Homo sapiens: one gene and its partner. The protein of the gene in region 2 purifies or fractionates together with the protein of the main gene of each other region. This does not show direct contact. Each region holds a gene or a part of one and is shown on either strand. Other genes may lie near its edges.

Region 1 (3,500 bases), on a different chromosome or scaffold from region 2:
TTGACCTGGGCCTGGAACGGTCTAGTGTAGGATCAGGCAACACTGCTGGTGGTGGCGGCAGCAGTGGGACTCTTACTCCAGCCAGCCAGCCCGGCACTCCTTCGCCACTGGATGGGCCGCGGCCCTTTCCTGCTGCTCCTGGCCGCCACAGCTCCAGTCTCTCCAATGTGCTGGAGGACGGCAGCCTCCCGGAGCCCACCATTAGCGGGGATGATACCTCGAACACCAGCAACCCACAGGTGAGGTGGGCCCACCCTCTGCCACTGCATGGTACCCAAGGGAGGACACTTCTGGTACACAGGGCTGGCAGTGTAGCCTCTCCAAAGGTGTGGCCCTGTCTGACCAGGGTTGCAGCCACTGGTCAGGCCTATTGCTGTCCCCTCATAGCTCTCATCTGCAGTTGTGTTCCCAGAGGGCTCCTGGAACAGGGTGAGTCATGATGAGCCACAGTGGGTGACACCAGCCAGGCTTCAGAAGGGCCCTCAAGAGAGCCTGTAGGGCAGACACCTCACAGGGTCCAAGGGCAGCAAACTCCAAAGGCCCTGCCCTGGGCTTCTGGGTTTGGGGATGGGCCTCTGCTTGTTCTATGTGAACTGCCTCATCTCCTCTTGGGAGTCTGGCAAGACCCCAGGATTCTGCCTGGAACTCAGGTAGTAGTTGAGACCCCTATACCATTCTTCCAGGCCCTTAGTGCCAGGCTCACTGTTAGCCAAATGCTCTGACTCCTGGGTGGCTACCCCAGGAGGGGTGCTGAGTGGGGATGGGTGGGCGTCAGCCTGATTCCCTCCCTTAGCCGCCCACAACCCACGCCCACACCACCCACCTGTGCCCACAGCAAACCTCTGAGGAAGAGTTGTGCAATCTGCTCACCAACGTGCTGTTCTCGGTGACGTGGCGTGGCGTGGAAGGCAGCGATGAGGCTGCCTGGCGGGAGCGTGGCCAGGTTTTCTCAGTGCTCACCCAGCTGGGGGCCTCAGCCACACTTGTGCGCCCACCAGACTGCATCAAGCGCAGGTGAGAGGGAAAGTCTGGAGGGGGAGGGGCTTCAGGAAGCCTCGGGGGAAGGAGAGAAGATAGTCAGGTAGACCCTTGAGTTCCCCACTCACCCGCCAGCCTCCTGGAGATGATGCTGGAGTCAGCCCTGACCGACATCAAAGAGGCCCCCGTGGGGGTCCTGGCCAGCCTCACCCAGCAAGCGCTTTGGCTGCTGCGTCTGCTGCAGGACTTCCTGTGTGCTGAAGGCCATGGTAACCAGGAACTGTGGAGTGAGAAGGTGCGACCCCTCAGAGAGGCGTGAGCCACATGAACACTCATGTTCATGCAAGCCTGCAGGGATCTGGTCTGGGAGGTGGATGGGTACACGTGCGCAGGTGTGGGTGCATCAGCATGAATGCCTGTGAGTGTGGACTTGCCTGTGTGCACAAACCCTACCTGGCCCCCAGCGCAAACTTTACTTTGCTCCCTTTCCATGGACTCCTGGCCTCCCCTGGTGATGTCTGTTGGGAACCTGTTTTCTGTGGCAGCTCTTTGAAGGTGTATGCAGCCTACTTGATCGCCTGGGAGCCTGGCCCCACCTGGCCAACGGCACAGCTGATCTCCGTGAGATGGCGCAGATTGGCCTACGGCTTGTACTTGGCTACATCCTGCTGGAAGACCCACAGGTGAGCACAGGGTGAGCATGGGGGCAGGGGGCGTGTGAGATGTCGGGAGCTCCAAGAGTGGCTGGGTGCCACTCATCTCTCTTGCGCCCACAGCTGCATGCCCAGGCCTACGTGAGATTGCACATGCTGCTACAGACTGCAGTGCCAGCCCGCCGCGAGGAGGCCTGCTATGTGCTCTCCAAGCTGGAGGCTGCACTGGGGCGGGTGCTGAACACCTCTTCCTTGGAGTCAGCCACTGATGAGGCAGGGTCCCCACTTGCAGCTGCAGCAGCTGCAGCAGCTGCAGAGCGCTGCTCCTGGCTGGTGCCACTGGTGCGCACGCTGCTAGACCGTGCCTATGAGCCGCTGGGGCTGCAGTGGGGACTGCCCTCCCTGCCACCCACCAATGGCAGCCCCACCTTCTTTGAAGACTTCCAGGCTTTTTGTGCCACACCCGAATGGCGCCACTTCATCGACAAACAGGTGCCTGGAGGTTGGGGCCCAGGAAGAGGAGTGGGGGCTGGGGCCCACATCGAGCACTGTTCTCCTCTGCCCAATCCTCCAGGTACAGCCAACCATGTCCCAGTTCGAAATGGACACGTATGCTAAGAGCCACGACCTTATGTCAGGTTTCTGGAATGCCTGCTATGACATGCTTATGAGCAGTGGGCAGCGGCGCCAGTGGGAGCGCGCCCAGAGTCGTCGGGCCTTCCAGGTGTGCCACCCGGGGTAAGGGATGGGAAACTGCTCCACACATGCACCCAGGAGATGACTGACAATGTGGAGAAACGGGTAGGGCAGGCAGCAGCCAGGGGACTGACCTATTACCCCCACCCCAGGAGCTGGTGCTGGAACCTGCGCAGAGGCGGGCGCGCCTGGAGGGGCTACGCTACACGGCAGTGCTGAAGCAGCAGGCAACGCAGCACTCCATGGCCCTGCTGCACTGGGGGGCGCTGTGGCGCCAGCTCGCCAGCCCATGTGGGGCCTGGGCGCTGAGGTGGGCCGGGCTTGGGGCAGGGTCGCTGTGGAGGGGTGGGGCTTGGGAGGGAGGGAGCCACCTGGAGCCCCAGACTGCCTTTGGGGTGAGGCCAGGGAGGGATGGGGGTGTCTACAGCCTTCTACCGACCCATGACCTGGGGGACATTCTGCAGGGACACTCCCATCCCCCGCTGGAAACTGTCCAGCGCCGAGACATATTCACGCATGCGTCTGAAGCTGGTGCCCAACCATCACTTCGACCCTCACCTGGAAGCCAGCGCTCTCCGAGACAATCTGGGTGAGGGAGTGTGCTGAGATGGGTCCACCCAACTCGATTGTCCCGTCTCCTGTCCTGCCTTGCTTCTGCTGAGTACCCTTGGCCCCTTGCAGGTGAGGTTCCCCTGACACCCACCGAGGAGGCCTCACTGCCTCTGGCAGTGACCAAAGAGGCCAAAGTGAGCACCCCACCCGAGTTGCTGCAGGAGGACCAGCTCGGCGAGGACGAGCTGGCTGAGCTGGAGACCCCGTGAGTGGGGCCCTGGAGAGATTGGACTGGTGTGGTGGGCAAGGGGTCTGCTCCAGTGTGTGCATGCCTCTGTGGGATCAACTCCCTGAGTGTGTCCTCTTCTGCTGCCCGACTACGTCCCCCTGAAGGGACTGTCCAAAGCCAGATGGTGAGTGGGAGAGTCTCCTAACAGGGCTGAGAGTTGCTCTTTTAACAGCCAGGCACCTGAGGACAGCACTGAGAAACACAAACCAGAGCAGGAAGGGGGCCCAGGGAGTGGGCAGGGGCTGGGTGAGGGGAGCAGGGGACAAGGGTTGGCATCCTGGCAAAATATTCAGAAGCCCAGTGGGTGGCAGGTGGGGGACAGGGGCTGGGAC
Region 2 (3,846 bases):
TCAAGAATATTGGTGTTTAAACTGGAGAATACATACTCCTGGGGGTGTACCTGTCGTAGGTAGTTTTAAAGACATAATTTCCAAGTCTTCAGCTTTTGTATATATTCTTTCTAAATCTGATCTGCTTGAAATTGGCTTGTGTGTTCATGCAGATTCTGCTTTCCCACCTTTCCTTTTACATTGATATTTTTAACATTTGTGAAAAGAAATATTACAACTCACTCATCTTTCCATGGTATATTGCTTTCGGGGTGCCTTATAAAGAGGCAGTTGGAAATATTTGATTTAGGGGAGCCTTCTTTAAGGATAATGGTTAAGCAAAAACATAAGCCTGCCAAGGGTTTGCCTGTCCCTATTTTAAACACATTTCTGTTAAGGCTGAAGTGTGGAGATAGAATTAGTATATGGTAGTCTGTGTGGGAATGTTCTGAATTCAGGCATATTGTAGAATGTGGTGGTAGGAGTGATTGTAAGGTGATCTGGGTGGGTTGTTTGATGGGAAGCTTAGCACCTTCAAGTTTTTACTCTTGGACTGGTTAGATTCTCCAGAGAAAAGCCTTCCCATTCTCCTCCCTAGAGGGCAGTATTTTAGGAATTTAGTGGCGGAAGACTAGGGTTCTCTGCCTTTAGCATTCAGTCTGTATGGTTCCCATGCCCACAGTCTAGACTGTTTCATTAATACCTTCTCCAGAGAATAAACTTACAGTCTTTTTCCTGGGGCAGTTGCCTAATAGCATGAAGTGAGGTAGGACACTTAGAGATATTCCTTTGTCAGTTTATACACAGCCCTAACCCGTTTCACCTTTAATTCCAAAGGTATCAGCTACTGCTTCATATGAATTTTTTTTTTTTAGAATACTGCAGGGTAAATTGGTTTGGTTCTCATATGCTCCCACTACTGGCTTGGGATTTTAATTTTTATGTGTTGCAATTTGTTAGTCTTTTTGGTTTTGGAATTTTGAGGAGTCATATTTAGGAAAACCTCCATTTCCCCATCTCCCCTCAATAGTGTGAAAAGAATCACCTTTATTTCTTAGTTCTTTTATAGTTTTAATTTGTACATTTTAAACTATTAGTTATTGGGGAATAAATTTTTGTTAATGGTGTGGAGGTAGGAATTAAACTCCTTTTTTTCTTCTAGAGGAATAGCTAGTTGTCTCAATACCATTTATTGAATAATCCATTTTTACCCTGCCCTGATTTTAAATGCCACCCTTGTCATACACTAACTTCCTCCATTCTTATTTTGTTGTGGTAAGATACACATAATATAAAAATCACAATTACCTGTTCTTTCATGATCAATGTCTAAAAAATACTAATTTGAGAAAGGATGATCTTTATAACCTAATATGCCAAAAAGAGAGTGAAGGGAAAGATGGAAGATTATCCTGTCTACTTCCTGCAGACTGCTTTCCTGTTGTTCTTTTGGTTCCCTCTGAGCACTATTTTGCCCAATCATTGTGTACTTACTGGACTGAGTTGAGCTATAGCTGCTGGGAGAACATATTCCCTTTTGTGACAACCCCTTTAGTATTTCCATGAGAGATTATTTCCTCTTCTAAGCGGATGTTAGAACCAGAGGCATTATAACATATGACTGGGTCAGAAACTTGTTTAAAGGGTTCCAAACATGTCAGAGCCTAGTGTAGTCCTTATAGTTTGATGGTTTTATGGTAATAATATCAGGCAGCCACTTATAAAGTCCTTTATTAATTAATTTTAACAGCTAATTAATCTTAACAGCTAAAGTAATTTTATTTACTTTCCCGTATTATGTGATGTCTCTGGTTATTTGTCTTAACTTTTTTTTACAGCTTGGCCTTCGAATTTGGTAAATAGTTTTTAGTCACATAGTGATTAATCATTTTATTTAAGTTTAATGAACTTTTATTATAAGGGAATGATTATCTTGTTTTAAGAATAACCTGGCTGCTTACTCAGTCAATCAGCATCATTTATTTCATTGCCAACTTTGTAGAGAGACCTCTACTTTATTCATTAAGAATATATAGAATAGGCTGGGCACAGTGACTCATGCCTGTAATCCCAGCACTTTGGGAGGCCGAGGTGGGCGGATCACCTGAGGTCGGGAGTTCAAGACCAGCCTGACCAACATGGAGAAATGCTGTCTCTACTAAAAAATACAAAATTAGCCGGGTGTGTTGGCGCATGCCTGTAATCCCAGCTACTAGGGAGGCTGAGGCAGGAGAATCGCTTGAACCCAGGAGGCGGAGGTTGTGGTGAGCCAATATCGTGCCATTGCACTCCAGCTTGGACAGCAAGAGCGAAACTCTGTCTCAAAAAAAAAAAAAAAAAAAGAATAGGAAAAAAATGTTTCTGTCTTTGAGATATAGTTTAATAAAGGACTTTGTAAGGGGCTGCCTGATATTATTACCATAAAATAACACAGAATACTTAAGCACACAATTCTTAAAAAATGAAGCACACAGTTTTCCTACAGGTGTCACCCTGTAGGAGTTTATATTTTTTAAAAGATGGCCCATACTCTTAAGAGTTTTAAACCATTGGAAGGCTGTTAGCTACTCTTTTTTTTTCTTTTTTTTTTTTTTTTGAGACCGAGTCTCACTCTGTTGCCCAGGCTGGAGTGCAATTATGCAATCTCAGCTCTCTGCAACCTCCACCTCCTGGGTTCAAGTGATTCTTCTGCCTCAGCCTCCCCAGTAGCTGGGATTTCAGGTGCCCACGACCACACCTGGCTAATTTTTCTATTTTTAGTAGAGACTGAGTTTCACCATGTTGGCCAGGCTGGTCTCGAACTCCTGACTTCAGGTGATCCGCCCTCCTTGGCCTCCCAAAGTGCTGGGATTACAGGCATGAGCCATGGTGCCCAGCCAGCTACTCTTTTAATTGGCAGCTACATAGCAGAGGAAACTGATGTTTGGGCTTGTGAATAAACATCATTGTTTTTGTTTTTTTCCTATGAAATGTTAGTTTTGAATGACCCATTACTTGTAGCCAAATAAAGTGATAAGAATATTCAAGTGTTGCTGATTTTATTTTCTGTTTCTTCTAGATGTCATCATTGCCAAGAAGAGCGAAAGTACAGGTCCAGGATGTGGTACTGAAAGATGAATTTTCTTCATTCTCTGAGTTGTAAGCATACTGGTTTAATATGTGGGTAGGGGAATGATGAATATTTTAATAAGGAGTAATGCATTCTGTCACTTTCTAACTCCTTAAGTGATGTGGGTAGAAAAAACTTTTTTTATTCATTCATGCAACAAGTATTTGTTGAACTCATGCTGTGTTCCAGGTTCTGTCTAGTGTTGCTAATAAAGTATCGAAAGGAGAGAGAAAGTAACCAACTAAATATGTAACATAATACTTACACTAGAATATAAGCTCCATGAGAGCATAGAGTTTTATATATTGCTTTAGAGCAGGATTTTTCAACCTCTGCACTACTGACATTGTGTGCAAGACAATTCTTTGTTGTGGGGGCTATCTTTTTTCTTGTAGGATTTTTAGCAGCATCCTTGGCCTCTACCCACTGGATGCCAATAGCTTCCTGCTAAGTTATAACAATTAAAAATGTCTCTAGACATTGCTAGATATCCCCAGTTGAGAATCTCTGCTTTAGAGTCATATTAGGTGCTCTGAAGATATTTGTTAAGTAAATGACTGGTAATATTTATAGTAATAAGTACTATAAAGAAAAATAAAACAGGGCAGGGGATAGAGAGCATAGTGAGTGGTTGCAGTCGGGGGGCATTTTGGATAGAGTAGTCAGAAAGTTATTGCGGAAGATGTGGCAAGAGATCTAGATGAGATTTGGGGGTGCAGCTTGCAAAGATCTTGGGGATGGGTGTTCCAAATAGAGAA

What was found.
Region 1: the proteins of SRBD1 (region 2) and NBEAL2 purify together in Homo sapiens (tandem affinity purification; one large-scale study listed by IntAct). This does not show direct contact.

Annotation. Positions count from the first base shown.
Region 1 is NC_000003.12:47,000,166-47,003,665, forward strand, and holds part of NBEAL2 (neurobeachin-like protein 2), read left to right. Parts: coding exon 1-239; intron 240-835; coding exon 836-1,014; intron 1,015-1,113; coding exon 1,114-1,273; intron 1,274-1,523; coding exon 1,524-1,661; intron 1,662-1,754; coding exon 1,755-2,123; intron 2,124-2,205; coding exon 2,206-2,355; coding exon of another isoform or gene 2,356-2,369; intron 2,370-2,479; coding exon 2,480-2,637; intron 2,638-2,791; coding exon 2,792-2,916; intron 2,917-3,008; coding exon 3,009-3,144; intron 3,145-3,500. UniProt on the Homo sapiens protein: Probably involved in thrombopoiesis. Plays a role in the development or secretion of alpha-granules, that contain several growth factors important for platelet biogenesis.
Region 2 is NC_000002.12:45,604,633-45,608,478, reverse strand, and holds part of SRBD1 (S1 RNA-binding domain-containing protein 1), read left to right. Parts: intron 1-3,037; coding exon 3,038-3,117; intron 3,118-3,846.